Linked DNA regions of Homo sapiens. The protein of the gene in region 1 interacts with the protein of each later gene in a pairwise test. Each region holds a gene or a part of one and is shown in the gene's direction. Other genes may lie near its edges. The genes, in order: SNAP25, OSBPL11, WASHC3, OSBPL5 and OSBPL10.

Region 1 (5,880 bases):
AAATCATGCTCATATGCAATGTTTCTGTTTCATTTTAAGTTTCTTCAGACATTTACTAGTTAGTGTAACACAGGCTGCTATAACAAAACAACCCTCACATTTTCCATAGCATAATAGAAATATATTGTTTGCTCACGTAAGAGTTCAGGTGTTACTGGCCAGGAGTCATTTTTCTCCATGCAGGGATATGGAGGGCCCAAGTTCCTTCTGTCTCATGGTCTCATGGCTTAACCATCCTTTAAGACTGTATTTCTGGCAGAAGGAGAAACAGAGGGAGGAGAATACCTGCTTCTGAACTGCCTTAGACTGACAGGGACACACTTTGTTCTACTACCACTCATGGACTGTCTCTAGCCACAGAGCACCACTTCCTTGCAATGGGAATTAGAAATGTAATTCCTGGCTGCACAGCCATTTCCCAGAGATCATGCTCTACCATGCAACAGTGAGGTTAAAGTGCACAGTTGACCATCTCCGCTACAAGACAAGAGCCCATGCCTTCTTCAAATGTGCTACTCACAGAGAATTTTTCATTCTATCAGATACCTACCCCATCGGGCCCTTTGCCCCCTTCCCTTCGATGGCCTGGGGACATGGCTTCCTCAGAAAGGCCTGTTGCAAACCCATGGGCACCCATGATACCAGACATGTCCCCTAGTGTAATTATCATCATCCTGAATCATCTAATTCCCTCTTTTGCTTGCATCTCCCCAATTAGACTGAATTCTGTAAAGGCAGGGAATTTGCCTATCTTGTCCATCACTGTATCCCTAGTGCCTAACACTGCCTGGCATATTACAGGTGCTCAATAAATATTTGAGAAGGAAGGAGGAAGGAGGGCTCTCTCCGGAATAGACCCAGTCCTTGTACCTGTCATTTGTACCATGTGGGATTTCAAGAGAGTAGCCAAGAAATGGACTGGTCACCTTTCAGGACCAAGGACCCACCCTCTTTGGAGTGATAGCAGCTCACCCTCACACAAGCCCTTTTGGCAACCTCTGATGATGACTGAAATAGATGAAAGATTTTCTGCCTTTGGCTTCCACATGCTTCTAAACACAATGGAACACTATTCAACAACAAAAATTGAATGAACTATTAATACATGCTGCAACATAGATAAATCTCAAAATAATTATGCTAAGTGAAAGAAGGCAGACAAAAAGTAGTACACACTATGTGATTTTTATTTATATAAAATTATAGGAAATGCAAACTAATGTATAGTGACAGAAAGTAGATCAGGCTGGGTGCGGTGGCTCACGCCTGTAATCCCAGCACTTTGGGAGGCCAAGGCAGGCGGATCACAAGGTCAGGAGATCGAGACCATCCTGGCCAACACAGTGAAACCCCGTCTCTACTAAAAATACAAAAAATTAGCCAGGTGTGGTGGTAGGCACCTGTAGTCCCAGCTACTCGGGAGGCTGAGGCAGGAGAATGGCGTGAACCCGGGAGGCAGAGCTTGCAGTGAGCTGAGATCACGCCACTGCACTCCAGCCTGGGCGACAGAGCGAGACTCTGTCTCAAAAAAATAAAAAAAAGAAAGTAGATCAGCAGTTTTCTGGGCATAGACATGTGGGATAGGGCAGGGGCCAGTGGGTGGGTAGGAAATTTGGAGGAGTAATGGCTATGTTCATTGTTTTGATTGCAGTCATGGTTTCCTGGGTGTATACATATGTCAAAACTTCTCAAGTTGTACACTTCAAATATGTGGGGTGGACTGTATATCTGTTATACCTTAATAGAGCTATTTAAATAAATAAATAAATAAATAAATAAATAAATAAATAAATAAATGTGATGATAAAAGTACACTAACCCCAAACCACATCCCTCCAACCTCATCATTCCCAACCCTTGGGTAGTTTGTCTCTTTAAAAATATTTCATCGGTAGATAGGTGTCTATCTCCATGGCAGAATTGGCAAGTATGTATTTGTGGCATCCTTCGGAGAAACAGCACAATTCTGTTGACCCCTGTCTGAGTATGGCTTTCAGATCAGAAAACTGAGTCATGTGGACTGAGTATGGGCCATTTAGATTTTCTGGTCTTTGCACACACCTACATGAACATATATAAGCTCTCATATTTTCATATCTACTTCTTCCCAGGTCCAGAGCCAAACCCGTCACTGACCCCCCAGCCCAGGCGCCCAGCCACTCCCCACCGCTACCATGGCCGAAGACGCAGACATGCGCAATGAGCTGGAGGAGATGCAGCGAAGGGCTGACCAGTTGGCTGATGAGGTAAGGAGTGGAGACCTAGGAAGGGAGGCAAAAGATGAAGGCCTGAGTGGTTTGTCTTATTCAGGTTCAGGTAGGGAAAGCCTTTCTTTCAATGTCTCAATTTCTTTTAGAAAAAGTAATATGACTTTGATTTTCTGTACACCTAAGGCTTCTGTGGACCAGAATAAGTTGATTATAGAAGCTGCATACAAATTACTGTCTTGGCCCTAACTCTCAATTTCCAGAAACCTTGAGAAGTCAAGGTCCTCTAAGAAAAGAAAGCAATGTCTTTGGGTGCCTTAATTCAGTGCTATGCTGGAGAAGGCTCAGTTCCGAGAACAGATTGTTAACATTTTCAGGAACTTTGCAAGCTGGTTGCTAAATGCAGCCATTATTAAAACTGAATTACATAAACTGACAATTAGATAGATTCTATTAAAATCAAAAGTAATAAACACTCAAACTTCATCACTTCCTAATTATTTTGCTACATTTTACTATTATCCATGATCTTGAGATTCATCCATTTTATCTGTAGGGTGGAAATAAGGTATAATAATGTGTTACCATGTGTCTTTCCAACTTCATGATCAGTAATATGAAGTTGTAGCTTAAAATCAGGCAGAGCTGGGTACAGCGGCTCTCACCTGTGATCTCGGCTACTTGGGAGGCTGAGGCAGGAGGATCGCATAGGCCAAGAGTTCATGACCAGCCTGAGCAACATAGAGAGACTCCCATCTCTAAAAATATTTAAAAATTTAAAAATCAGACAGAGTAAGAGTATTTATCACCCAAGAATCTGCAAATACTGCAGATCAGGACTTGACTTATTGTTTTGCTGATTGTCTAGACTTTAAAAAGTAGAGAAAATATTAATAATGCAGATTAAAGTTAAAAGTATGTATGTCTGCAGCCATTATACTATGAATAACACAAAAAGAGGAAATCTTCCAGTATTTGAAAATTATGATTCTCTAAGGCAAAGAAATCCTTTTTGTCATTCACAAATGAGTACAATTCCAACACATGCCTTCATTGTTTAATTTTCTTCTTACTCATTAATATACATGAAAATATCCAACCAACATTCATGTCAGAACTACTCTGGTTCATCACATGGTTAGCTGTAGACACAAAAGTTCAGCAAAAATCAGTAAAAGTTTTCTGTGAGAATCAATTGGCTATGCGGAATTTACAATAAAGAGAGTATTGTATATTTTATTATTATTTATAAATTTTGTGCTATTCATCCTTTATATCAGTAAAATAATAAACTTGAATACATGTATGTATTTGTGTATTTTTCCCAGAGAGCCGGTAGTTAAACCTTTACCAGCAGACTGCTGCTTGCAGCCATTCTATTTCAAAAAGCAGCTGGCTGACAGCTCTTCCAGGGAAGTTAACATCCTTCAGGTTCCTGCAGAATCTTGTTCAAAATAAGTTTGTCAGTTAAAAGCAAAGCTTTGAGAAATCACACTGGTTGTTGGATTCTAGTCGTTTCAAAAGAACTGAGAAAAAAGTGACAACGCAGTGCCCGGGGGACCATTGCAGAGCTCAGCCTTTCCGTCTCGTTTTTTCTTATCTAAGGATGAAGATAATTATTATAGCTCTCTCCTATAGGCTGGTCATTTCAAACATGCTTGATTTTTTTCACCCTAAGGCAACAACTTAATTTGTATTGATAAGAACTTCCAATTGTGTTTCTAGGAGCTTTGTAAGAAACTTGATGTTATATTCATCTCGATTCATGAAAAATTATGTTTGTGTTTAAAATTTAATGTTCCTGGCCCAGGGAGGCCAAATTAGTCCTCTGAGTAATTGAGATAATTTTTCATGCATTCTGAGCATGCAAAATTATCTTCTCCAGATTACTTTGTCTTTGATATCAAGATCAGCTTCATATGGTTTTTATTTTCTGAAGATAAGCTGTAATGTAATTGCTTTAGGGAATCTGATCATGTAAAAAGCCTGATAGGAAAGAGTTTGAAAATGTAATGACATTTTTTGTTTCACTTGCCAACTGAAAAGAATATGTGACAGAGACCCTTTGTGTTTCTCAAGTAAATAAAGTATTTCTGATTTTCCAAGATCTCTGGATCCTGCACTCATAAAGTTTATGTTTGTTTGTTTTTTAAATCTTAGTCGCTGGAAAGCACCCGTCGTATGCTGCAACTGGTTGAAGAGGTAAGAAGTGACAGTATTTTAAGATAAAGGAACAAATCCCTTATGCTGATACATCCTTTCCTAGTTGCTATGATGTTTCCTTGGGCCATGATCCCCTAGATTCCAGTGTGGATGTAGCCTATCAGAAAGGCACAGAATGAGGGAGATGCTGTATTTAAGTTGCCAGATAGCCATGAAGACACCTTCACCCTCCTTCCCAGCCCAAGCCACCTCTGTAGTCTGGTCTGGGAAGCAGAGAATAATAGAATTTCCAAGTCTGTGCTCTCAAGAAATCACAGACGATTGTATCACTTTAAGCAAATTAGAGCAATTCTTAATATACAAAGGAATTATCTACATAAAACTTTATTTGTAATTATTTTTGTGCCTATAAATTACATCTAATCTTGAGATTCTGTTCTAACTTTAGCCACATATATGACTTTTAAAAATATGTACGCATATAGGTGTATCATTTTTAGAAATTGTTCTATTTAAAGTCAAGCACTAAAATTTATGAAAAAATAGGAAAGCCCTTTAACAAAGGGAAATATCAAGTCCAATAATATAAATACAGAAGCTTTTTTATATTCCTGCCTGGATTGAGCATCCATTTGCCAGGCAGGGTTAATGAATCCCAAACTATTTTTAAATGGGTAAAATGGGGCAAATAGCAATAATGGAATCAAAAGGGCACTTGCAATCATAAACCTCACTCATTCCAATTTGGTAGAGCAGCAGTCGGCCAGGCAAAATAAATGGATTAATTGAACTTGCCCAATGGGAGAGATGAAGTGGAAAAAGAATGGGTTGGACTATACTTATCTTAACCTAATAAGACAAGCCTAATAGTTTTTATTCAGCGAGATGCTGTTTTAGCTGTGCTTTGAACTGCTTATCAGTATATAAATTCATGTGTGATTATCGTTTTTAGAGATCTTGGGCTTTCTCTGGCAGAATGATTAAATGAGCCTACTCCCCTCATGCTATCATAAATTTCATATGCAACAACTTGAAAGGGAAGAAAAGATAAATTTTACAAAGGATAAAAGGAAAGGCAGCCGCCTCTCACACTCTAGGAGCCAATGTCCTCCTTCTCTTATTTCTGTAGCTTCAGCTTCTCACCTAGGAATGAGATATGGCTAAATGTGAATTGCCACTGGAGGAGTGGGAAGGAGGTGGCAAGCATGCACTCCCTAGGAAGCCGGGGAAGTGGGTGGGGCGGGGGGTGGGAGGGTGGGGCGAACGTAACAAAATCTGTTATCCCCCAAAATGATAATTCGAGCCTGCAATGTGGCACAAACGGGACACACCGGAAGGCAGCCCTAGCAAAGCAGGTCCTCAGTATAGGGAAGCAGCGTTCTGTCTAAGTGAAGAGCAATATTTTATCTGCACTGTCCAGGGAATGCTGCTGCTCATGCAGAAATACTTGAGGATGAAGAAGGAGGTAGATATTCTAAATCTACGAGTACAGGCAAGACTCTTAGCATGG
Region 2 (5,880 bases), on another chromosome or scaffold:
ATCTGGATTACTGAGTACATGTCTTTTTTTTTTTTTTTTTTTGAGACAGGGTCTCACCCTGTCACCCAGGCTGGAGTGTGGTCGGGCGATCTCGGCTCCCTGCAACTTCCACCTCCTAGGTTCAAGTGATCCTCCTGCCTCAGCCTCCTGAGTAGCTGGGACTGCAGGCATCGACCACCACGCCTGGCTAATTTTTTGTATTTGTAGTAGAGACGGGGTTTCACCATGTTGGCCAGGCTGGTCGTGAACTTCTGACCTCAAGTGATCCTGCCACCTCAGCCTCCCAAAGTGCTGGGATTACAGGCATGAGCCACCGTGCCTGGCCGAGTACATGTCTTATTAGTATTCTGTATGACAAATTGGGAATATAAATAAGTATTTGTGCTGGCTACCGAAGAAATATAGTAGTTATCTGGAGGAAGAGCACTTGTAAAATTTTTTGAGTTACAAGCAGAATTAATCACTTTGTTCATGAAATACCATGTTTACTTAAAAGAATGATTGATAGACAAACTATGGTTCTTCTAATTTCAATGTTAGGTAGACATTTTTCTTGTAAATGAAAGACATGAATGTGATACTTAAAGAAAAACAATTGATGGTATGTTACTAATAATAAAATTTGAGCTTCAAGGCAAAATTAGAATTTTAGAAAATTGTATCTGCCACCATGAACTTGAAAACTTCCCAATTAGTTTTCTGGTGAACTTGGTGCTTATATTATTGAACGTGATTTTTTAAAATATTGTATAGTATGTCAACATCTGGAAGATCTGCATAACTCAATGAACCAGTATTTTTCAAATGACTAATGCATGATATTACAGAATCATGCATGGATAAATGATCCATTCAGGATGCACATTAGACCAGTGGATTTCCATATAAGTTATTTGAAAAAATATTGACATTCTTAAATTTTCCACATTGCAACTGGCCTTTTTAAAATTACCAGTTGTCGAGTTTTGAAACAGTATGAAAGAATTGAATTATTTGAAAAATCTGTAAAAATATTTCTTCTCTTTTTCAAACTGTATCTGTGTGAGGCCAGAATTTTTTTTTTTTTTTTGAGATGGACTCACTCTGTCACCTAAGTTGGAGTGCAGTGGCATGATCTCGGCTCACTGCAACCTCTGCCTCCTGGGCTCAAGCGATTCTCATGCCTCAGCCTCCCAAGTAGCTGGGATTACAGGTGCACACCACCACACCCAACTGATTTTTTTGTATTTTTAATAGAGATGGGGTTTCACCATGTTGGTCAGGCTGGTCTTGAACTCCTGATCTCAGGTGATCCGCCCACCTCGGCCTCCCAAAGTGCTGGAATTACAGGCTTGAGCCACCATGCCCGGCCCAGATTTTTCCTATATATACTTTAAATCAATATATCACCACAGATTGAATGTATGGGCAGATAAAGAGATGCTTCTGGGCCGGTGTGGTGGCTCACGCCTATAATCCCAGCATGTTGGAAGGCCAAGGCGGGTGTGTCACTTGAGGTCAGGAGTTCAAGACCAGCCTGGCCAACATGGTGAAACCCCATCTCTACTAAAAATACAAAAATCAGCCAGGCATCTCTACTAAAAATACAAAAATCACCTGGCGTGGTGGCGTGCACCTGTAGTCTCAGCTACTCGGGAGGCTGAGGCATGAGAATCACTTGAACCCAGGAGGTGGAGGTTGCAGTGAGCCGCCGTTGAACCACTGCACTCTAGCCTGGGTGACAGAGCCAGACTGTCTCAAAAAAAAAAAAAAAAAAAAAAAAGATGCTTCTGAATTTTATTTGCTAAAATTTTGTAATGAATTTTATAGTTTCTATATACATGAGGGATATTGCTCTGTTCTTTTCTTTAGGGGAAGGTTTTGAATTACAAATTACGTATGTTTAATATATAGGGCTGTTAAGGTTTTCTGTTTCTTCAGTGAGCTTTGGTAGTTTGTCTTTCAAGGAATTGGTTCATTTCAGCTAATGTGTCAAATTTATTGTCATATAGTTCCTAATATTACCTTATTTTTTTATCTGTGTAGGATCTATAGTGATATCCCCATACTTATTCCTTATATTTGTAATATCTTTTTTCTCATCAGTGTGACTAAAAGTTTATTAATTTTACACAAAAAACCAGATTTTGGCTTCACTGATTTAATCTATGTTTGTTTTCTTTCTCATTGAATTTTGCTCTTTTATAAAATCTCTTTTTTTCTCCTTACATTGTAAATAATTTGCTTTTTTTTTTTTTTTTTTTTTTTTTTCTAATTTCTTACAATGGAAGCTTAGGTTAGGGGTCAGCAAACTTTTTCTGTAAAAGGCCAATTAATATTTTAGCCTTAGTGGACCAAATAGCCTCTCCCACAGCTACTCAACTCTGCCCTTATAGCATGAAACATCCATAGACAATAAGTCAATGATGAGACATTGTTAAATTGCAATAAAAAATTATTTACAAAAATGGGCTGTGGGCCATAGTTTGATCCCTGGTTTAGCTCATCAATATTTTTTTCCTAAATGTTTAATGCTGTAAATTTTCCTCTGAGGACTGCTTTATTTCTATCTGATGACTTTTTATGTGTTTTCATTTCGAAATATTTTCTTATTTCCTTTGTGGGTTTTTTTTTTTTAACTCATGAACTTATTTACAAATGTGTTGATGATTTCTAAATGTTTAGAGATTTTCCAGCTAGCTTTCCATTATTTATTTCTAATTTAGTTTCATTTTGGTGAAAGAATATACTTTGTATGATTTTAATTCTTTATTTAGGTTTGTTTAATGATTCTGAATATGTTCTGTCTTGGTAAATGTTTCTTTTTTTTTTTTTAAGACAAAGTAGTGTCTTACTCTGTCGCCCAGGCTGGAGTGCAGTGATGCAGTCTCGGCTCACTGCAACCTCCACCTCCCTGGTTCAAGCGATTCTCATGCCTCAGCCTCCCGAGTAGCTGGGACTACAGGCGTGTGCCACCACACCCAGCTAATTTTTTTATATTTTTAGTAGAGATGGGGTTTCACCATGTTGGCCAGGCTGGTCTCAAACTCCTGACCTCAAGTGATCCACTCACGTCGGCCTCCCAAAGTGCTAGAATTATTCATGAGCCACCACACCTGGCCTTGGTAAATGTTTCATGTGCCCTTGACACGAATGTGTATTAAGCCCAAGAGTTTGAGACCAGCCTGGGTAACATGGCAAAACTCTGTCTCCACAAAAAATATAAAAATTAGTTGGATGTGATGGCATGTGCCTGTAATGCCAGCTACTCAGGAGGCTGAGGTGAGTGTGTTCTATAAACGTCAGGTCAAATGAGTTGACAGTATTTTTCTAGTCTTCTGTAGTCTTACAGATTTTCTGTGTATTTATTCTATCAGTTGAGTTTAGTTATTGAGATTGGTTATTAAAATTACCAATTACAATTGAATATTTCACTTTGTAGTTCTGCAAGTTGTTACTTCATTTTATTAGAAGTTCTGTTATTAGGGCAGGCATTTATATTTAGGATTGTTATGTCTTGATGTTTCTGTTTTTGTTTTAATGTCTTTGGTTATTTATGGAGAATTCCTTATAAATTCATTTTTATTTTTGAGCCATCTCATGTATCATATTTTTTTAAAAGGATATTTGATACTTGATTTTCAGAAATGTGTTAGGAAACCTTTTGGAGCCATTAAGATACATATGTAGCCTTAATTCTTTAAATTATAAGACCTTTGGCATACTATCCAGCACTTTGGGAGGCCGAGGTGGGCGGGTCATTTGAGGTCAGGAGTTCGAGACCAGCCTGGCCAACATGATGAAACCCTGTCTGTACTCAAAATACAAAAATTAGCCGGGCATGGTGGTGCACGCCTGTAGTCCCAGCTACTCAAGAAAGTGAGGCAGGAGAATTGCTTGAGTCCGGGAGGCAGAGGTTGCAGTGAGCTGAGATGGTGACAGTGAGACCCTGTCTCAAAAAAAGAAAAAAGAGAAGAGACGAGAACAGAAGAGAAAGAGGGAGGGAGGGAGAGAGAAGGGAGGGAGGGAAGGGGAGGAAGAGAAGGAAGGGGGGAGGAAAGAAAGGAAGAAAGAAAGAAAAAACAGATGTTTAGTAACTTTCTCGAGTAGTACAGTCATTACCATAAATAAGTTTTAGAATATTTTCATCCTACCGTAAGATCTCTCTTGTTCATTTACAGTTAATCCCCATTACCCCCAGCCCAGAGAACCACTAACTTTCTGTCTCTATAAATTTGCCTTTTCTGGATATTTCATATAAATCATACAATGTGTGATCTCTTATGCCTGGCTTATTTCCTTAGTATAACGTTTTTGAGGTTCATCCATGAAGTATTAATTGCATGTATCAGTGGTTCATTGCTTTTTATTGCTGAATAGTATTGCACTGTATGGATATATCACATTTTGCCTATCCATAATACTGCTGTGAACATTCTCCTACAAGTCTTTGTATGGACATTTATTTTCATTTTTCTTGGGTAAATACCCAGGAGTGGAATTGCTGGGTTTATGGTAGTTTTATGTTTAACTTACTACATTTTTTTCACATGTATATCCAGTTGTCCCAGCACCATTTGTTCAACAAACAGTTCTTTCCCTAAAGAAGTGTTGTGGCAGTTTTTTTTTGTTTTTTTTTTTTTTTGCTTGAGATTTGTTAAGCTTCCCTCTCCCTGTGCGTGGCCTAGAAACACTCTGGACAGCGAGTTAGAGCACTCATAGGACTCCCCTCATTTGTTTCCTTTCTCAAGGATCACTGCCCTGCACTGCCTTTTGCTCAGTATCTGAAAACCACTATTGTATTATATGTTGCCTGGTTTCCTGGTTGATGAAGGCAGGAAAATAAATGTGTTCCCCATTATTTCATCATGTCCAGAAGCACAATTAGTCTTGCTTACATTTCAACTTTGAAAATTTACTTCTCTTTTTACTCGTTAATTTCTAAGTTTTCTAAAAACAAAAAATCCTGCTTTTATAACCTGGAAAAATACAAATTATTTTTAATTTAAAAAGAAGCAGAAGGAGCAGCATCCTGGACATAACCATCAGCAGCACAGTATCGTTATTCTTGGAATTCATAAGCATGACATTGTAGATGTGATTTAGGAAACGTTATTTTATAAAATTATTGTAATTTTGAGGGTATTGATTCTATTTAATTATCTCTTTTAAAGAATGCTTGTAAAATGTGTGGTTTTTGGATTTCAGGCGATTGTGGAAAAATGTGACAGACTCGCTGAGAGAATCTGAAATTGATAAGGCCACAGAGCATAAGCATACCCTGGAAGAACGTCAGAGGACTGAAGAAAGGCATCGTACTGAAACAGGCACACCTTGGAAAACCAAATATTTTATTAAAGAGGTATGCTGTACATGTGTTCAAGATAAAAATGTATCTACTTGGCTGAGAACTTTAGCTTACTAGGCTTTGTTGAATTGCTATCACTTATACATCTTTATTTTTAAAAGTAGTATGGCTGTATATAAATACCAACTGTTTTTGAGACCAGCCTGGGTAACCTATAGCAAGACTCTGTCTCAAAAAAAAGGCAGATATACCAAGAACAGATTCTAAGAAAGAAGAGTTTCTAAGTGAGAACATCTATATATCATTAAAAATGAGCTAGGGGGTGGCCGGGCTCGGTGGCTCATGCCTGTAATCCCAGTACTTTGCGAGGCCGAGGCAGGCGGATCACCTGAGGTCAGGAGTTCGAGACCAGCCTGACCAACATGGAGAAACCCAGTCTCTACTAAAAATACAACATTAGCCAGGTGTGGTGGTACATGCCTGTAATCCCAGCTACTCGGGAGGCTGAGACAGGAGAATTGCTTGAACCCAGGAGGCGGAGGTTGCAGTGAGCCAAGATTGCGCCATTGCACTCCAGCCTGGGCAACAAGAGT
Region 3 (5,880 bases), on another chromosome or scaffold:
CCAGGTTCAAGCGATTCTCCTGCCTCAGCCTCCTGAGTAGCTGGGACTGCAGACGCACACCACCACACTTGGCTAATTTTTTTTGTATTTTTAGTAGAGTTGGGGTTTCACCATGTTGACCATCCTGACCTCAGATGATACACCTGCCTCGGCCTCCCAAAGTGCTGGGATTACAGGCATGAGCCATTGTGCCCAGCCTATGGTGATTTTTTTTTTAACTATGTTTTTAAACAATGCTGAATTTAAGCTAGAAGTAGATAAAAATAAAGGTAGAATTTTTTCTCTCATCCTAGTTCATGTACTGTAGTTCAGAACCACTTTGTAAATGATCATCTCAGAATCAGAAGAGCAAAAGGCTTTTCCTCTTGGCACAGAATCATCTTAGTGAGAAACGAATTGATCATTTGTTAGCTTTGGATAACAAAAATTCTGTGCAATACCCAAGAATTTACCATTATGTTTTAACAGTGTAAAATTATCTCAAAAAAATCTCGTGAAGTGTATTGCCTCTGGAGTTGGAGGGTTTGAGTTCAGGATATTTTACTTGTATGAGACTCAATTTTCTCATCTTTAAAATTGGCATAATAGTTCCTACTTTATAGATTTGGTGTAAGATTTCAATTGATATGTTGCATATACACTGTACCATATGTAGCAAGGTAAATACTCAGATATTTACAGTATTGATGATTATTGCTTAAAAGTAAATATATAGGTATATTAAAACAGAAAAATTTTTAATTCCATTTTTTTGTTTCCTTTTGTGTTTCCTTCAATCAAACCAATATGTCCATTTTTAAATAAGTTGGAAATTCTCATTCACTTTACATATTAATTTGCTGTGGAATTTTTTCTCTAGTGAATTGAGACTGATTAGATTTGCCAAAATTAAATTTCTATGATTTTAAGGAATACACTTATAATTTGGAGAGGGATTCATTCATAATACATGTTATAAACCTGTATTGGTGTTTACCTAAAAGCCTTATGTGAATGAATTCTAGAAGTCAAGGGTAAACTTAGCTTTGATACCATGAAAACTAGATCCTAATACTTTATTTGTAGATTATGTCTTTGTCGATATCAAGATGCTAAACTAAAAATAAGTGATCTGTAAAGAAGCACTATCTGCTTTGTGGCCACTTTCAGTTTTTTGCCCCCTCTAATTGTGGGCAAAGTGACCATTTCACAGGATGGTAAAGTTCTACTTAATAGTCAGGATCTTAATAATATCCCAGAATACAATCAGGATGCTGTGTATCTGCCAGCTTGTAAACTGGGCAACTGCTCTTGGATTATGTGACTGAATATAATGTTTAAGATTAGGAGGTTTCAAGTAAATGTTCTTTACTTGAATGGTCATATTTTATGATGCTACCTTTCTTTGTATAGGTGTATATTTACACAGAGGTACATTGACAATTTAATTATACAGAGTAACAAGCATGATAAGCTCTTCTATCTGGTTTATCTTGCATTTTGATAGTAGATTTTAATACTCTAGTTTTTTCTCTTCTCTTTCCAAAATGAATTACTCATCTTCCAATTCCATTCCCCTTTATTTTTCAAACTACAGATGTTTAAATCTGGGACGAATTGTATATGCTGATGCATTTAAGTAATTTATAAAGGCAGACCTTGTTGCAGCGTGTCTTTGAATAATTTTTATTCTTTTATTTTCTATGAAAAAATTTCTTCATTCATCAACAAATAATTATTAAGCTCCTATTAAGTGTCAGGGTACTATTCTGGGCACTAAAGGTACAGTAGTAAACAAAAGGCTCTGTCCTGGTTTGTTTATATTCTGGTCTCAACAATTGTTTACTGCTCTGATAATGAGTTTGCAGAAAATGTCAACTTTGTTATAAGTGAATATAATTTTATAAAATAACTGAGAAGCGACTGGGTGCGGTGGCTCACGCCTGTAATCACAGCACTTTGGGAGGCCAAGCAGGCAGATCACGAGGTCAAGAGATCAAGACCATCCTGACCAACATGGTGAAACACTATCTCTACTAAAAATGCAAAAATTAGCTGGGCGTGGTGGCACGTGCCTGTAGTCCCAGCACTCGGGAGGCTGAGGCAGGAGAATCACTTGAACCCAGGGGGCAGGGGTTGCAGGGAGCCGAGATCGCACCACTGCGCTCCAGCCTGGCGACAGAGCAAGACTCCGTCCCAAAAAAAAAAGAAACTGAGAAGCATTATAATACACGTAATAGAAGAGTTCTCATTCCTACTCATGTAAATAAGACAGTACTGTATTAGAATATGACAAATATTTAATGGTTTTTAATATTTTCATATCTGCCCTTAGTTATTGTTAACAGTTTATTTTAATTAAAGTCTTTATGTCTCTAATTTTTCTTTTACAGAAACTGGCAGACCTTTCACTTCGTATCCAACAAATTGAAACAACTCTCAATATTTTAGATGCAAAGGTTGGTATTTCTCAATAATTTGTAGTATAAACTTTGCTGTGCATATACCAGCTTTCTTAATCATACTTAATTTTCATTGCATTTGGGAGTGATTCCATTTAACTTCTGTATCTGTGAAGTGATACTGGTTGTGTTTTTAATTTTACTGCAGTTGCAAAGAAAATGGTGTTCATTATGAACCATTAATTCAAATGTACACATGGTTTGCGATTTCTTTCATTGTGCTAGGCAAACGCATAATGCGAGTAACATGTTAACAAGCTGAGCTGTTATCTAGTTCACTTCATTTGATAGAAAATTCCAGATTTATTTTACTAGTTATTATTTGATAATACAATACTAATATAAATCTTTAGATGTCTCAGAGCAAATTTTAGAGACAATATCAGCTGTTTCTATTTGCAGATACCTTAAATGCTAATGAGGAATACCAGTTTTGATGTCAGAAATTGCAAATAATAACTAAGAAAAATAGAAGACTGTTTTAGATTGCAAGCTTAAAGATTTTGATAACAGTGATGTCTTTGGTTTCATTTTTAATATTTTTTTACATGTGTTTTTTCTGTTTATAAAGTTATGGAGACACTAGTGTATTTTCATGACTAACTTTCCTGAAGTTAATATTTTCTTTGTCCATTTACCAAAATAAAACTAAGAAATATTCTGTAAATATTTATGAGGAAGAAAAAAATGATATCCCTTTTTAATATGACCAGAATGTCTAGTTTGTACTTTCTACGTCTCTTTATGGACTTCAGCAACTGTGTTTCTCTTAGAACATTTCTCTAGTTTGGAAACCCGGTCTTGAACATGTTCAAGATAGTCCTCTAGCAGCCATACCCACTTGAAACTATTTGGGCCATAGCCACTGTGCTAACTATGGTTATCAGTCAACAGTTCTCAATGAGTATTGCTGCTTGAGATCTTATTACCATTGGTTTTTTTTTTAATTATTATTCTTTATAATGAATATGTGTCTTATTTTAATGTGAATATGTGTCTTATTTTAATGTTTAAGGAATTCCTGGGAGTTAGAGTCCAAGGTCGCACATTAAATGACCATATGGACAAGTTAACCTTAGTTATTTCCATGGCCATAGAGTCATCCCCAAAGTTAGCCAAACATCGACAAATGCGTGTCATTGATATCAGGATGAACTCAGAAAAGAAGGTTTGTATGGGTCTCGCAGATCTAACCTGAAATGCTTAACTATTTCATAGTGAAAGCTAAACCATTTCAGGTTGAAATACCAACAATATGCCCATTTTTTTGCATAGAAGAAACATATTTTAATAACATTCAGTGGTGAATGTTCAAAGAAAGAAAAAAGAATGAGCTGTGTCACACATTAAAGTGTAAAGACAAGAGTTTTGTCATATCCTAGATAATTGAAACTCAAAATTTGCACAAAGCCCTTTTTTTTCGAAGTATTATCAATAGAAATATTTTTACAACAACTTTTCTAGGTACATGTTCTTATCTCCACTTTACAGGTGAGATAATTGAGACACAGGGAGTTTTACACAAGATCACACAGCTTGTGAGTGGTAGAGCTAAAAGTTAAACCTGACAGTCTGACTTCAAAGACCAGGCTCTCAGTCCTTACACTAGGATTGTCTATATTTTGAAAATGATGGTTATGTAAACTAAATTAGATTTTTGAGAAGTTCTTCAAAAGAATTTGTGACCGTCTTTCACTTTTAGTTTATGACATGGAAAATTAAAGACAAGATATTGTGAACCTATTTGTATAGCCTTAAAACTTAAGACAGCTATTAAAAATAGTGTTTATTTATGCAAGTACTATCTTCATATTCCAATACTAATTTTCTTTTCTCAGTTGTCATCTATCCCAGGCCTAGATGATGTCACAGTTGAAGTATCTCCTTTAAATGTCACCAGTGTCACAAATGGAGCACATCCTGAAGCCACTTCAGAGCAACCACAGGTAAGTGAGTTCTAAGAAACGAGCAGATGTTCTTGGTTGAAACTGATAGTGTTAAGCAGCAGGTTGGAAGGAAGAAAAATAAACATGTAAAACTTCTAATAGTAAAATTTTAAAACCTTAACATAGAAAATGAAGTTTGGGAAAAACAAATTAGCTGTGTTATTTTGAAGGGCTTCCTGAAGTTAATACTTTCTTTGCCTGTAAAAAAGAAAATCAGTCTATATAGGACTAGGAAAAAGCTTCAAATAATTATTTTCTTCAAAATAATTAGAAATTTTTCTAGGTTCTTAGAAGAAATGTACTTTTAAAATATTTTATTGTAAAATTTTTAAACATACACAAAAATAGACCTGGATTCACCAGTTTTCACAATTGCTTCATCTATTTTTTTGGTCACTTGCTGAAATTAATTCCAGACATCTTGTCATCTCACCCTGCATAAATTTTTGAGCATCTCTGAAAAGTTTTGACATTTTCTTTTGTAACATTTGCTTATATAAATGCCTTTATCATATACAGTGTAATTAACAATAATTGGCCAGGTGCAGTCACTCAGGCCTGTAATCCCAACACTTTGGGAGGCTGAGGCAGGTGGATTGCTTGAGCTCAGGAGTTCGAGATCAGCCTGGGCAACATGGTAAAACCCTATCTCCACTAAAAATACAAAAATTAGCCAGGTGTGGTGGCACGCACCTGTGGTCTCACTACTCGGGAGGCTGAGGTGGGAGGATCACTTGAGCCCACGAGGCAGAGGTTGCAGTGAACCGAGATTACACTACTGCACTCCAGCCTAGGTGACAGCGCAAGTCCCTGCCTCAAAAATAAAAAATAAATAAATAAATAAAACATTCTCTGGTATTGTCTAACCCCTTGTTACTCAAGTACACGCCATGGACCAACCACATGGGCATCACCTGGCAGCTTGTTAGAATGAAGCATCTCAGGCTCCACCCCAAAACTGCTGATGAGAATCTACATTTTAACAAGACCCCTAGGTGATCTGTAGGCTCTTAAAATTTGAGAGCTACTGATCTTAGAAATACCAGTGTGTTTTTGAAGATGATTCGTTTGAATCAGCATCCCAGTAAAAGCTATACTTTACATTTGGCTCTTAGATCTTAACATTTACTTATGCTTCTGTATGAATTTAAATTTTCTATTACTTTTTATTTCAAAAAATAAAAATTCTTTGTTGTTTGAGAACAATCTCTAGTGTATCTCAGCGAGGTATTAAAATCTAAAACAAAGTAATCATCAAAATGGTGGCCTACCAAAGTAATAATAATAAACAAATAAAACAAACAGATTTATAAATGGAATTCTGCCTTTGTACCTGGAGGCACTTTTCACAGGATATTTTTTAGATCACGATGATGTTGACAGTGATGATAACAGCTAACACTTCAAGAGTGCTTTCTGTGTACCAAGGCATGCACGTTTCTAAGTGCCTTTCATAAACTAATTTAATCTTTACAACAGCCCTATAATGTAAG
Region 4 (6,423 bases), on another chromosome or scaffold:
CGGGGTCAGGAGAAGTAGATGAGATGCAAAGAACCTGGGACAGGGTAGGGGCTCCATCAGCAGGAGGCCTTGGGGGCTTAGACCAACCACCCGAAACCAAGGAGTGATGCCAGCAGGTGGACATGTATTCACTTCTGGGGCAGGGATTCTTGACCTCAGCATGACCAGCATTTGGGGCCGGGTCACCCTTTGTGGTGGAGGCTGTCCCGTGCATGACAACGTGTTTAGCAACATCCTCGGCCTCTACCCACTAGACACCAGTAGCAACCTCCAATGACGACGGCCAGAACTATCTCCAGGCAGTGGCAAATGCCACCTGGAAACTGGAGGCAAAACCGCCCCTAGCAGAGAACTGCCATTCTGGAGACTTGGATTGGAACTGCCCTGATTTTAAATTGCACTGTCCTTGCAAAGCATTTTTTAAGTTCTTACTTATCACAGACATATTTTTCTGAATTACCATAAATTCCAAACTAACCAGCTGGGCGCTGCAAGCCGTTCCTTCCCATAGTCCACTCATGGTCCCCAGTGCCCACCAACAGCCAGCGCTTGCAAAGTCTGTTGGCCCACTGGGGACTTATGGCAGCTCATGCAGCGGAAACTGCTCTGGTCATCGCCATTTATAGATGAGGAAACTGAGGCACGGCCAGTTGCACAAACCTGCTCAAGGGCTCCTGGATGGTGGGGCCTACTGGGCGTGCCCCCCTAAAGCTGGTGCCATTGGCACCTGGCTCTGCCCATCTCTGAGACCTCTGACGCCTTCATTTCCTGCGTTGGCCACCAGGCACAGATGCTGTGTCCATCTGACAGGAGAGGAAGCGGGGTCCCAGGAGGAACAAGCCACTGCCTGGTGACAGAGCTTCTTTCTGGCAGCAGCAGGATTCGGACCTACCTCTTGCTGGGGGCAACCTCTTCGGCTCACTGCCTCTCCAAAACCAGGCAAGAGGCTGGAAATGGGGCTTTCTGGAAAAATGCAGAGCCTGCTGGGAAGTGGGGCAGACAACTGACACCTGTCACTGAGCCTGGCAGGTGGCGTGTTCTTCATTTCTTGCATGGCCATCTGGCTGTCAGACACTACCCAGTGAGAGGCTCAACCCTCGTCCTGCTCCACCCCAGCCCCACCCTGCTGTCATCTATGGCCCCTTCCCCCACCCTCAGGTGCCTCTTTGACTTTTGACCTCTGCCCTCAGCAGTGTCATTTCATGAAACCCAGGCCCTGGACAGCCAGCATCAAGCAACTGGCAACCTTCCCTACTGCCGCCCCTGAGACCTCCGCCCTAGGGATAGGGGCTTTGTTTTCTTCCCTAATTCCCTTTGGATTGGCTCCAGCAACCAGCAAGTTACCAGGCAGCAGCACCTCAGCTTTGGGCGGAGTCTTCAAAGAGCAGACCCAGCAGTTGTATGTGGATCCCAGCTGCACAGACCCTCTCCTGCAGAGGCAGAGGCCGCCTGCCACAGGCCACGCGGAGCAGGGTCCCACCATGGCCCTGAGCATCTTGACTGAGCAGTTCTGCATCCCAAGGCCTCACAAGGTGACTATGGAATGGCAATGCTAGCCCTGGGGGTAAGCTTAGGGCAAGTCCGATCAGCCCACTCGCCTCCGTAAGCCGTGGGTTCCTGTGATCCGCACACAAGCGGCTGGTGCTGCTATCCCCAGGAGGATACCCACCAACTTGTCTAACGGGGTGGGCAAGGCCAGGGCTGAGACGGGAAGGGGTCTGGCTTGTTGTGGGCAGAGCACCTGCATGCTGTGCCGTTCCCCCTTCAGGTGCTGGAAGGAGCCTTCCTGGGCCGCTCGCCCTCCGCAGCCCTGCTGGGAGGTCTTGCAGACGCCCATGATAGCCAGGCTTGCGGCCTCCCGAATGCAACTGCAGCGTGAAACCGTAGAAACACACGTGTCAGTGGCAGTTCTGCCTGGGGAGGAGCCCAGGGCTCTCTGCGGAGGGTCAGTTCTGTCCCTGTTAAGGTTCTGTGTGGAAAAGACTCCACGCCCTCTTGGGGTCTACCTACATCTGGGGATGCCCGAGCCCAGCTCCCAGTTTTTCTGGTCATTTGGGGACATACCATAGGAAGGACCTGCAGTGCACCTCAGGCTTGGACACTAGGGATGCAAACGCCCTGGGGCCAGCCCTGGGCCCACACCCAATTTAGGGTCTACAGGCAGGGAGCCAGGGGCCAGGGGAGGACTTCTCAGCTCCCAAGGGGATGCTGTTTAGGGGAATTAGAATGTCTTTTATATACAAGAGAACTGAGGGGTCTAAAAAGGTCTCTGGGGGGTAGAAGAAGGTGAGGAGAAAACACAGGAAGAAATGCACATGAGGGGAGGTTCTTGTCAAAAGGGTCCTGAGAAAGACGTACAGTTAGAGTGTGACTGAGGGTCCTTCTTAGCACATAAGGGGCAGGGACAACGGGCTCAGATGTCTGGGGCTCCTCTTGTGTTCTGATGGCTCCTGAGACGGGGAGAAACGGCGACAGTTTCCTGGGTTCAGGAAGGGAGAGGAGGCGCCTCGCACCCTGGCTAGGGTGGGCTGGGGGCCTGCACCCCTAAGTTGGAGAACCCCACGAAGCTGACCCCACTCACCGCTGCCCACCCCGCCAAGCCTCCTGGCCATTTTCAGCGGAGTGTCCCGACCTCTGGCCGCCCGGGTGGGTGTGAGCCCCGGAGCGCGCGCGGGGGGTTGGGGGATGAGGAGAAGCGGCAGCCGGTGGGGGGCAGCCCCTGGGCGCCCGCTCCGCGCGGCGATTCGGCCCGGGTTTTGCGGCCGCCGCGCCTCCTCCTCCCGCCTCCGGGCTCCCTGGGCCTCCTCCCTCCGCCGCGCCCTCGCTCCGCCTCGCGCGGGGGGACCATCTGCTGGCATTTCCTGCAGCCAGGCCCGCGCCGCCAGTGGAGCCCCCGCGCGCCCGGCCGGCCCGGAGCACCGAGCTCGCGGCACGGTAGGAGGTAGGAGCGCGGCGGCCCGGGGGGCGGCAGGGCGGCGGGGGGATGGCGGGCTGGGAAGGATCCGGAGGGCCCCGCCGGGCAGGGCCGGAGCGAACCGAGGGCCGCGGGGGGCCGGCCGAAGGGATCCAGGAGCTCGCGCCGCAGCCCCGCGGACCCTGGCAGTAGCCAGTGCGGGGAACCACGCCGCGGGGCCGGTCGCGCGCTGGGGAGCTGGGGAGCGCGGGAGCCTGGGGGCGCCCCGGGCCAGGACGGGTCGGCGCCTGGCGGGTTGGGGCGGGTGGGGCCCGCGAGTGGGAAGCGGCGCGCCCAGCTCGGCTCCCCACTTGGTGGGGCTTAAAGGAGCCGGGACCGCCAGGGAAGGTGGCTGGGTCTGACCACCACAAACCCTGGCCAATCAGGGGGTCTGTCCCCCCAGCTCGGCCGACGCGGGCTCCAAGGAGCCAGGTCTTGATGGGTCTGCAGGGGGTCTGGGATCTGAGTCTGGCGTCCCAGCTGCGGGCTTGGGAGGACTGCTGTGTCTGAGTCCGCAGAGTCAGGGGGCTGCCTGGATTACAGGCTAGGGAAGGACCTTGCCCACAGCCCCCATCTCTGGGGCACTGACCCCCTGAAGATGTGGAGCCTTAGGGATTGTTGAGGTGCCTGAGTCCTCAAGAGGGTCTTGTGCACTTGAAGATTCCTCCCGGGGAGCGGGGTGCAGGAGGGTGGGGCAGGCAGGAAGGAGGCTGGAGTCTGCAGCCCCCCGGGCAACAGGCCCGTCCTGGGCTTCCCAGGCACCGCCCCCAACCCCCACCCAGACCGCTGGGCTGCCTCCTGTCAGAAGCCAACTGGAGTTAGGGTTTGGGGTGACTCCTGGGGGTATGGAGGGGTCACAGGGTGGGCTTACCTGCCCCTCCCTCGTCCCTGGGCTGAGCCCAGCCCCTCCCTCATCCTTGGGCTGAGCGGGTCTGCCCCGCCGAAGCGGCTGGGTGGATTTCCTCTCTTGCCGTTTCGCAACTTGCTCCCCTCTGTGTGTCTGCCCCAGTCTCTTCAAGGTGCCTTTTACAGGAAGACTTCTGTAAGGGTCCCACCCCACCTGATACAGCCTCCCAAAGCCTGGAGAAGTGGGCCAGCCTTTGGGATCCTAGATAGATGCTCTTGGGTCTGCCTGCACCAGGGCTGATCCAGATCCCAGACTGAACAGAAACTCTGCTCCCCAACCCCAGGAGTAAGGCCCCTCTGCACGTTTTTATCCCACCTCCTTGGTACACAGGGCCTTGCTGTTCCTTGAACCTGCCAGGTGAGTGGGGGCTTTGCAGGCATCGGGCAGGTTTGTGGCAACCTGGGGTGGCATCATGTGCCCAGCTGCTCCCTTCTGGTCTCAGGCTCCAGAACTGCAGATCCTATTGTCTGCCTGCACGCGTGTGGGGCTGGCCTGGGGTGCCAGGAGGCAGGCACCGCGTGTGTCTGTCTTGCCAGGCTGTGTTTAAGAAAGGTGACACAGCAGATAGGCCGGATGAGGAGCCTCTGACCTGCAGTCCTGGGCCTGGTCTCAGAGAGGCTGCCCTGCAGATGTCGAACCCCGGGCAGCCATCCTGCATGTCCAGTGGAGGCTCCTTTCTGGGTCCAGATTGGGCCATGAATAGGCCATGTTCTTCAAAGGACTGCTTTCAGCTCTTTACAGAATACCAACGCAAGACCGCCCCCCCCACCCAACCCCTACCCAGGATTGTATTTACTATGCTGAGAATGCCTGGTATCAGTTTCTCTCCTGAGATCCTGGCCTCACTCTGAGCGCTGATAGTAATCTGACATGTAACGCTTGGGGGAGGGAGAAACACTCTGTGACAAGCCGGCGGGTGGAAGGGCTGTGTGTGTCTCTGCCAGCTGTGTTTTGGGGACTGGTGCTCTCTGCTGATTCTGTGGTTAAGCCTGCACACGTTTGCACACATACAGGCACAGTGTGCAGGTGGAAAACTTACCCAAGATGACAGAAGGTGCCCCCCGCCCCCATTCCCATTTATTGTTCAAGGGACAGGTGAATCTGAGCCTGTGACCGCAGCTGAGAAATGTTGTGGACCCAGCTCAGGGTTCTCCCGGAGAGGCCTGGGGAGCTGGAAGCTCTGACCTCCGGGACAGGGGGTTGTAGAGGGGCCGAGGCCCAGGGTTGCACAGTGCCAAAAGGATCCCGGTCATTTTGACAGGAAGGGAGCTGTCGGGGAGGGAGCCGTTAGGTGCAGCTCCCCTTGTGGAGTCCAAGGGCCAGGTGGGTAGAAGTGCCCACCACTTGCAGGGTTGGCAGGGGAGCCCAGGGAGTGCACCAGTGTGCTGGGGGGTAGATGTTGGGGGGTACAAGTGAGGGCCACTGGCCTCCCGACAGGGACAGGCATGCTGCCCTGGATGTCCTCATGCTGCTTGTGACCGGCACAAAGGAAAAGAATATTGTTCTCGATGCCAGCTTTGCTTGATGACTTACCGAGCCTGCAGCTTGAGGAGGCAACTGACAGCCTGAGGATGGGGCTCCTGGGCTGGTCAAGATTTTTAAAGGTTTTGGGGCCTTGGTGGCTGGGTCTTGGCCACGGCTGGGTAACCTTTCCCGTGGAGATGTATGGGCAGATAGTGAAGCTGCTCCGGAGAGTGGTAGGGTTGGCGGTCGAGTACAAAGGACTTGGACTAAGGACCGCGTTGTTCTCTTAGCATCACAGTTGTTCTGAGCCAGGGCCTCTGGGATCATGTCCACGAGGATGTGAGATTGCCTTGTGCTGGCATCTACACTAAGCGGAGTGGGCACCAGCTGTGTCCTCAGGACCAGGGCTTGAGGTGGGAGATGGGGAGGGGGTGGGACATGAGCCTTCTTGGCTGGCTTAGAGGGATCCAGAATTCCTAGAGGGCCTTTGTTGCAAATCTCAGAGCCACCCAGGCTGAGAGCAAATGCTTTGCTCGGCCTCCCAGCCCACCTCACATCCGGCTACTCCCTCCAGGGCTGGCCTCCACTCCCCTCCTGGCCCTACCAGCTCTTGCCTGGAGCTCCACATCAGCTACCTAGTAGGCTCCCCTTTCGTGGCCTTCCTAGCCCTTCTCCAGCCAGCAGCCAGCATGGTGTTTAAAAAGATAAACCACTTCATGTAATTTGACCACTTAGAGCCCTTTGAGATTTGCCATGGGTCTCAGTAAGTCCTGACCCCTTTCCAGACCCCACAGGCCCTAGATGCCCCTCCACTCTGTCTCCCTTCCCTTGTTCTCCTCTCCCCCTCCCCTCCCCTCCCTCTCCCCTCCTTGCTCACAGGGGTCTGGCGTCAGCCCCGGCTTCTTACTCCAGGGCCTTTGCACTGCCTGTGCCTCTGCTTTCGGCCCCTCCTTGGATCTGCATTTGGTGGGCTCCATCTAATTCAGGTCCCAGCTCAGATGCTGCCTCTCTGAGAGAGTCTCTGTTCCTGGCCCGTTACCCATTCCAAAGCAGCTCTCAGCTCTGTGTTTTGTTTTCTCTTTATTTATACTGAAATGGT
Region 5 (5,880 bases), on another chromosome or scaffold:
TTTTCTTCAAGTAGATTATGAGGCCAGCAAAGCTTTTACCCTGGATTACAGTTATTTTATTATTTACTTGCTGGGGAACAATATTTTACCTTGCAGTCTGTATTAAAGGATTTGTTATTTGGAGTGGATTTAGGAGGCATTGGAGTAACATTCTTTTGCATTATTTTAAACCCATTGTGGTGTTTAGATTGGAGGCAAGGTTGAGAAGAAGCACATTTAATGCCAATAATAATACCTACGTGATAGCAGGCTACCTAGGTGAAATGTGGTATTAAGTACACTCCTGAGCATGCTTAAGTGATGTCTCATCTTTATTGAGTTTGTTTACTGCAATTTATAGCTGTCTGCCTATGTTTGTTCTTACCACAGTAGACTCACCGTTTTCCAAGTCTACCACTGACTCCATAAGCATCGTCTGTAATTGTTAACATCTCAGTGTCAGGGTTTCTATTTCCCACATTTTGTTCTTTGAACGATGGCTGAGGGTCCATTAGTGGTTTGGAGAAGATTACGATGACTCTGTGCTTGCAAAATTCTCCCTTCTCTAGGGGTCTTATGAAGGGACAGATGGATTAGTGAAAAGGAAGAGAGAAGAGGATAAAAATAGAAACTTTGAAAATGTATTCATTTGTTCAATTATCTATTCACAGACTGTTTTATTGAGCACCTACTATGTGGCAGGAACTGTTCTAGGAGCTGGAGCTACCACCCTTCCCTGGTCCAGGGAAATGCCTTAGTACAAATAGTTAGCCAACTGATTCCTGCTGCCTTTCTTTCTGGGCCTCATAGCATCTTCCTTTGGCAGTTCTTTTCAAAGTGCCCACAGTTAATGACAAATCTATAGCAACCAAGTTCTTGGTTCATCCTCTCAGGCTGCTGTGCAATTGTAGTGCTCTTCACCAGCTCCCAGGACTTAATACCAATCACCCACTAACAGTTTGTACCCTGGTGTCCTCTTGCATGTTCTCAAGTTGCTGTAAAACTTATATTTTAACACTTGGCATCATATTCTGCCTTTATTTGTAGCCTCATCCTCATGCCCTTAGGAAGGCAGTTTGGGCCAGAACACAAAATAAACGACATAAAGAGAGGTCACAGAGAAGAACACTGTATGATGGGAACGTGCTCAACTCAGGAGAGTAAGTTCAGGACATTTGGCTCACACTCACTGGATGAGAATGTGAAATACTTAGAGTATGGGGAAAACATGCATTAAGGGCTTTCTGTCATTCATTATTATAGATATTTAAAGAAAATATTTCAGGCATAATAACATTGTATAGATTTACAGGATGGCACTGAAGAGTAAATACATTGATACAAATGAACAACAATAAAAAATCCAGAAAGTGGCAAGTGCTATGAAGGTTAAAAAAAGGTGATGAGATAAAGCAAGTATTTGCAGGAATAATTTTAAGTGTGAGTCTAGTGTTTTTACTGCTATTCACATTGTCACTTAGAGTACTCTCTTATTACCCATCTTATCACTCATACAGAGTGAACCATGGGGAGAGTAAACCTCGAGAACTTGAGGAGGCAGATGACCTAGCACCTAGTTGGCCAGGATTAGAATTTCAGACTGGGTTCTGGTGGCCCAGAAGGATTTTAGGAAGGGAAGTGACACTTATTAGGTCACTTTGGCTGCTGTGTAGAGATGAGATTTTCAAGGGGCCAAAGCATGAAGCAGGGAGACCAGTTAGGAGCCCATCTGAGTGGTCCAGGAAAGAGATGCTGGCGGCCTGGGCTGGGGGTTGGCAGAGAACTGGAGAGAAGGGATAGATCTGGTGTGGAGAGGATGGAAATCGCTGATGAATTTGATGTGGAGGTGAGAGAGGGGCAAGAATAACTCTTGATTTGTGGGCCTGAGAGGCTGGGAGGTTGAGACGTCCTTTGTGGAGATGAGGATCACAGGAGGGGAATGTGTTTGTGGGGAGGGTGAGGCTTGGCCAAGAGTTCTGTTTGGACTGTGTTCAGTTTGAGGTGCTTACCCCTAGTAAGAAACTGGCTGTATGAACTTTCATTTGCCCTAAGTCAAACTTTACTCTCAAACTAAAATGGAGCTATTTTGGAGTTGCTCATAATATCAAGTATTTGAGGAAATAATTTCTAATTGGATCTAGAAATTGTTATTTAAATATCTAAGGGTTGCCATTGCCATTCACTTTTTCTTATTTGGAGAAAAGAAGACACTGCGAACGTGGAACCAACCTTCAATTCTTTTTTTGGTGATTGGCAGGGTTGTAAGAACTCAATAAAATGCTGAATGACAACAAATCTTGACTAGGATTAAGGAAGACAAGGCTGGGTGCATTGGCTCACATCTGTAATCCCAGCACTTTGGGAGGCCGAGGTGGGAGGATTGCTTGAGCCCAGGAGTTCCAGACCAGCGTGGGAACCATGGTGAAACCCTGTCTCCACAAAATAAAAATATAAAAATTAGCCAGTGGTGGTGGCTTAGGCCTGTAGTCACTGCTGCTCAGGGGTCTGAGTTGGGAGGATTGCTTGAGCACAAGAGGTCAAGGCTGCAGTGAGCTATGATCACACCACTGGACTCCAGCCTGAGCAACAGAGCAAGACTCTGTCTCTAAAGTAGACATTTATTTGGGGAGGAAGAGTAGTGTGAACTTTGGATTCAAATCTTGACACCAACACTTAGCACACATGTGACCGTGGGCTAGCTCTTTAATTGCACTGGGCTTCTGTTTTTCTCTTCTGCTAAATGTGGGAAATGATGTTACTCTTTTCATTAGTTCAATGTGAAGATTAAATGAGATTATTGGTGTATAAGGGACTGAGAATAGTACATAGCAAGATACCAAGAAGTGGTAGCTATTATTAGATCTTCAATTTGTCTGTTTTTAAGTAGGCACTTTCTGGTCCATAAAATTCTTGGTTTTTATTCTGAGTGCTGTGGTTACCCTGGGACCACATTAACATAATTATCATAGAGTTCTTTGGGGAGAAGATGATTACTTCATTTTGAAGGGATCCTTTTAAAACTTGGCACCAAACATTTACAGCTCCCCTTCCCAGCCTCTAAATCCTATCTTCCTTTCCTATTTTATTTCTCTCCATATACCTTGCTATTATCTGACATGCTTTATATTTTACTTTTTTTGGTCTCTCCACACTAGAGTATAAGCTCCCTGAGGACAGATAATTTTGTTTGTCTTTGTTGCTGCTGTTATCTCCAGTGTTGAGAACAGGGTCTGGTATACAGTAAGGGTAGAGTAAGTATTGTCAAATGGATAAAAAAATGAATAAATGTCAGAGAGGGAAACCAGGGCTTAGTTCTATTTGAGCCAGTGTTAGCTATTATTAGTATCAGAAGTCTTGGTTCTGTACCTGCTTGTAACCTTGTCCTTGTGTTGCTGTGTTTATCATCTGTCCTGCTCTCTGCAAACAGTCTTTGGTTCTGGATCAGGGAGTATGACTCTTCCTGTGACGTGCCCACCCTGATTTAGGGCCCACCACAACTCACCCATTGGGGGCCATTAGTGACCAAATATCCAGGGCTTGCTTTTGACTCTATCTGGATTAACAACATACGTTGAGTGTTTAGTGTTTAGCCCCCAGCATTTTGGTGCCACTTATCCCAAATTAAAGCATCACTGGGGTATATATGAATTTTTAAAGCCACCTTGAAGGAAAATAAGTGTTTTTTTGAGTATCCCAATAATTTTAGAGGGAATTGGTGATACCAGGGTTGAAAATCACTGCTCTGGGTTTTGTATTCTTGTCCGCGTGTACATAGGAAATATCTGCATATCTTCCTGTGTAGTCTGCCAGAGTGTTTTGAGGCCGTGTGCTAAAATCCTTTAGGGACACTAACTAGTTTCATTGATGGTAATAATAAAAGGGATGGTTGCCTAGGTTACAAAACACTGTATAATATTGTTTATTCACTTATGGTTCAAAATACGTATTGAGCACCTGCTTCGTATTAACTACTCCCTGCAGAATCTGCCCTCCCCCTCCTTTGAAAGTGTGTGTATATTTGAGGAGATTCACACCAAAATGGTTTTCTTTGGTTGGTGGGATTATGGGTGATTTCCATTATCTTCTCTTGTCTGTTTTCCCAAGGTGAATGTGTGTCTGTTTTGCAGTTTGAAAAAGTTGTTGAGGCAAAGAAAAGCTGCTCATGCCTTTTCACGTCATCTGTCTAACTGAGTTTTGCGAGTAAATTTCAAGTCTAATCTACATTCAGAAAAGTACACAAATCATATACATACACAGTTCAATGAATTTTCTTAAATGGAACACACCCAGATTAAGAAACAGCTGCCAAAACATTCCCTGTCCCCCACAGCCCCTTTCCTCATAGTATCTCCCCGCATACGGTAACTGCTATTCTGACCTCAACACCACTGAGTTGTTTGGTCTCCTTTTGAACTGTGTATTGTGTAATATGTGATCTGTGTGTCTGGCTTCTTTCTCTTAACGTTATGTTTGGGAGGCTTACGCATGTTTCTGTGTATAGTTGTGGTCTGTTTATTTTCATTGCTATTTGGTATTCCGTGGTATGAATATACTGAACACATTTGTCTATTGTAGGTTGGTATTTGAGTTCTTTTCAGTTTTTGACCCTATTCATAGGGTCACAATGCTGTGAACATTCTAGTACCTGTGTTTGGAGAACATAGGTATGCATTTCTGTGGATATACACCTAGGAGTGTTTGCTCATGTCCAGCTTATTAGATACTAGCAGAGAGTTTTCCACAGTGGTTGTATGCATTAATACTTCCACCAAAAGTGTGTAGAGAGAGTTCTGTGTGTACCACATTCTCATCCACACTTGATATTGTCTCTTGTTTTCATGTCATCCAATTTTAATTTGCCTTTCCCTGATGACTACTGAGGCTGAACATGTTTTCACGTATTAATCGGCCATTGGGATGTCATGTTTTGCAAGCTGCTCTTTAAGTCCTCTGCCCATTTATCTGTTGGGTGTCTGCCTTTTTCTTCTTGACTTTTACGAGATGTTTATATATTCTGGGTATGCGCCCTTTGCTGGATGCCTGTATACAGGTGCCTGGGCACTGCATATATAGAGACACGGTGTATTATGCAGGCATTATGTCCTGTGGATATACCACAGTTTGTTTATCCATTACCTGTAGGACAACATTTGGGCTGTTTCCAGTTTTTGACTATTACAGATAAAGCTGCTATTTGTGTGTAAGTCTTTGTGTGGTCACATGCTTTTATTTCTTTTGGGTAAATACCTAGCATTAGAATTGCTCGTGTATCCATCCTATGTAGAAAGTGCTAACCTGTTTTCCAAAGTGGCTGAACCATTTCACACTGCCACCAGCAGTGCATAAGTGAATAGATGGCTCCCCATCCTGGCCATCTTCATGTTGCTACCTGGAGAGCTTTTGGAAAACAGGACTGCCACTTCCTCATGTGCATGGCATTGCTTCTGAGAGGGGCAGTCTAGGGAGAAGCTGTGTAGTCCTTCTTACCTTTCCAGCTTTGTCTCCTTTTGGCCAAATGACCTTGGGCAAGTTATTTAACTCTTTGGGCCTTGGTCTCTCCATCTGTAAAATGATATGAACCTCGCAGTGTTGTGAGGCCACCACAGGCACCAGTCCTGTGCTTGGTGCACAGTAGGTCCTCAGCAGAAGTTTGTGAGTGAGAGTCTTGTATTTTAGATAGACTAGTGACTAGCTTTCTGGAACCTAGGGGTTGCATTGGTGGTCACTTAAGCCCCAGCCTTGGCAAATCTGCAGGTGTCTTAGCCCTGCCTCTCATTACATGAGGACCCAGTTGACTTAAGCCATTTGATTTGCCCAGTGGCTGTCTGCGTTTGGTGTGCTTCCTCAGAGGCTGCTTGTGGACAGTTGTCTGAGGACTCTGGGAAGAAAGAAGCCACATGG

Evidence for each region.
Region 2: the proteins of SNAP25 (region 1) and OSBPL11 interact in a protein complementation assay, tested with the Homo sapiens proteins (one study listed by BioGRID).
Region 3: the proteins of SNAP25 (region 1) and WASHC3 interact in a two-hybrid assay, tested with the Homo sapiens proteins (one large-scale study listed by BioGRID and IntAct).
Region 4: the proteins of SNAP25 (region 1) and OSBPL5 interact in a protein complementation assay, tested with the Homo sapiens proteins (one study listed by BioGRID).
Region 5: the proteins of SNAP25 (region 1) and OSBPL10 interact in a protein complementation assay, tested with the Homo sapiens proteins (one study listed by BioGRID).

The regions. Positions count from the first base shown.
Region 1 is NC_000020.11:10,273,318-10,279,197, forward strand, and holds part of SNAP25 (synaptosomal-associated protein 25), read left to right. Parts: intron 1-2,111; 5' UTR 2,112-2,174; coding exon 2,175-2,246; intron 2,247-4,367; coding exon 4,368-4,409; intron 4,410-5,880.
Region 2 is NC_000003.12:125,531,322-125,537,201, reverse strand, and holds part of OSBPL11 (oxysterol-binding protein-related protein 11), read left to right. Parts: intron 1-5,187; coding exon 5,188-5,341; intron 5,342-5,880. UniProt on the Homo sapiens protein: Plays a role in regulating ADIPOQ and FABP4 levels in differentiating adipocytes and is also involved in regulation of adipocyte triglyceride storage. Weakly binds 25-hydroxycholesterol. Interacts with OSBPL9 to function as lipid transfer proteins.
Region 3 is NC_000012.12:102,042,612-102,048,491, reverse strand, and holds part of WASHC3 (WASH complex subunit 3), read left to right. Parts: intron 1-2,372; coding exon 2,373-2,438; intron 2,439-4,279; coding exon 4,280-4,387; intron 4,388-5,880. UniProt on the Homo sapiens protein: Acts as a component of the WASH core complex that functions as a nucleation-promoting factor (NPF) at the surface of endosomes, where it recruits and activates the Arp2/3 complex to induce actin polymerization, playing a key role in the fission of tubules that serve as transport intermediates during endosome sorting.
Region 4 is NC_000011.10:3,161,734-3,168,156, reverse strand, and holds the start of OSBPL5 (oxysterol-binding protein-related protein 5), read left to right. Parts: upstream 1-2,846; 5' UTR 2,847-2,941; intron 2,942-3,960; exon of another isoform or gene 3,961-4,217; intron 4,218-4,240; exon of another isoform or gene 4,241-6,423. UniProt on the Homo sapiens protein: Lipid transporter involved in lipid countertransport between the endoplasmic reticulum and the plasma membrane: specifically exchanges phosphatidylserine with phosphatidylinositol 4-phosphate (PI4P), delivering phosphatidylserine to the plasma membrane in exchange for PI4P, which is degraded by the SAC1/SACM1L phosphatase in the endoplasmic reticulum.
Region 5 is NC_000003.12:31,973,176-31,979,055, reverse strand, and holds part of OSBPL10 (oxysterol-binding protein-related protein 10), read left to right. Parts: intron 1-5,880. UniProt on the Homo sapiens protein: Probable lipid transporter involved in lipid countertransport between the endoplasmic reticulum and the plasma membrane.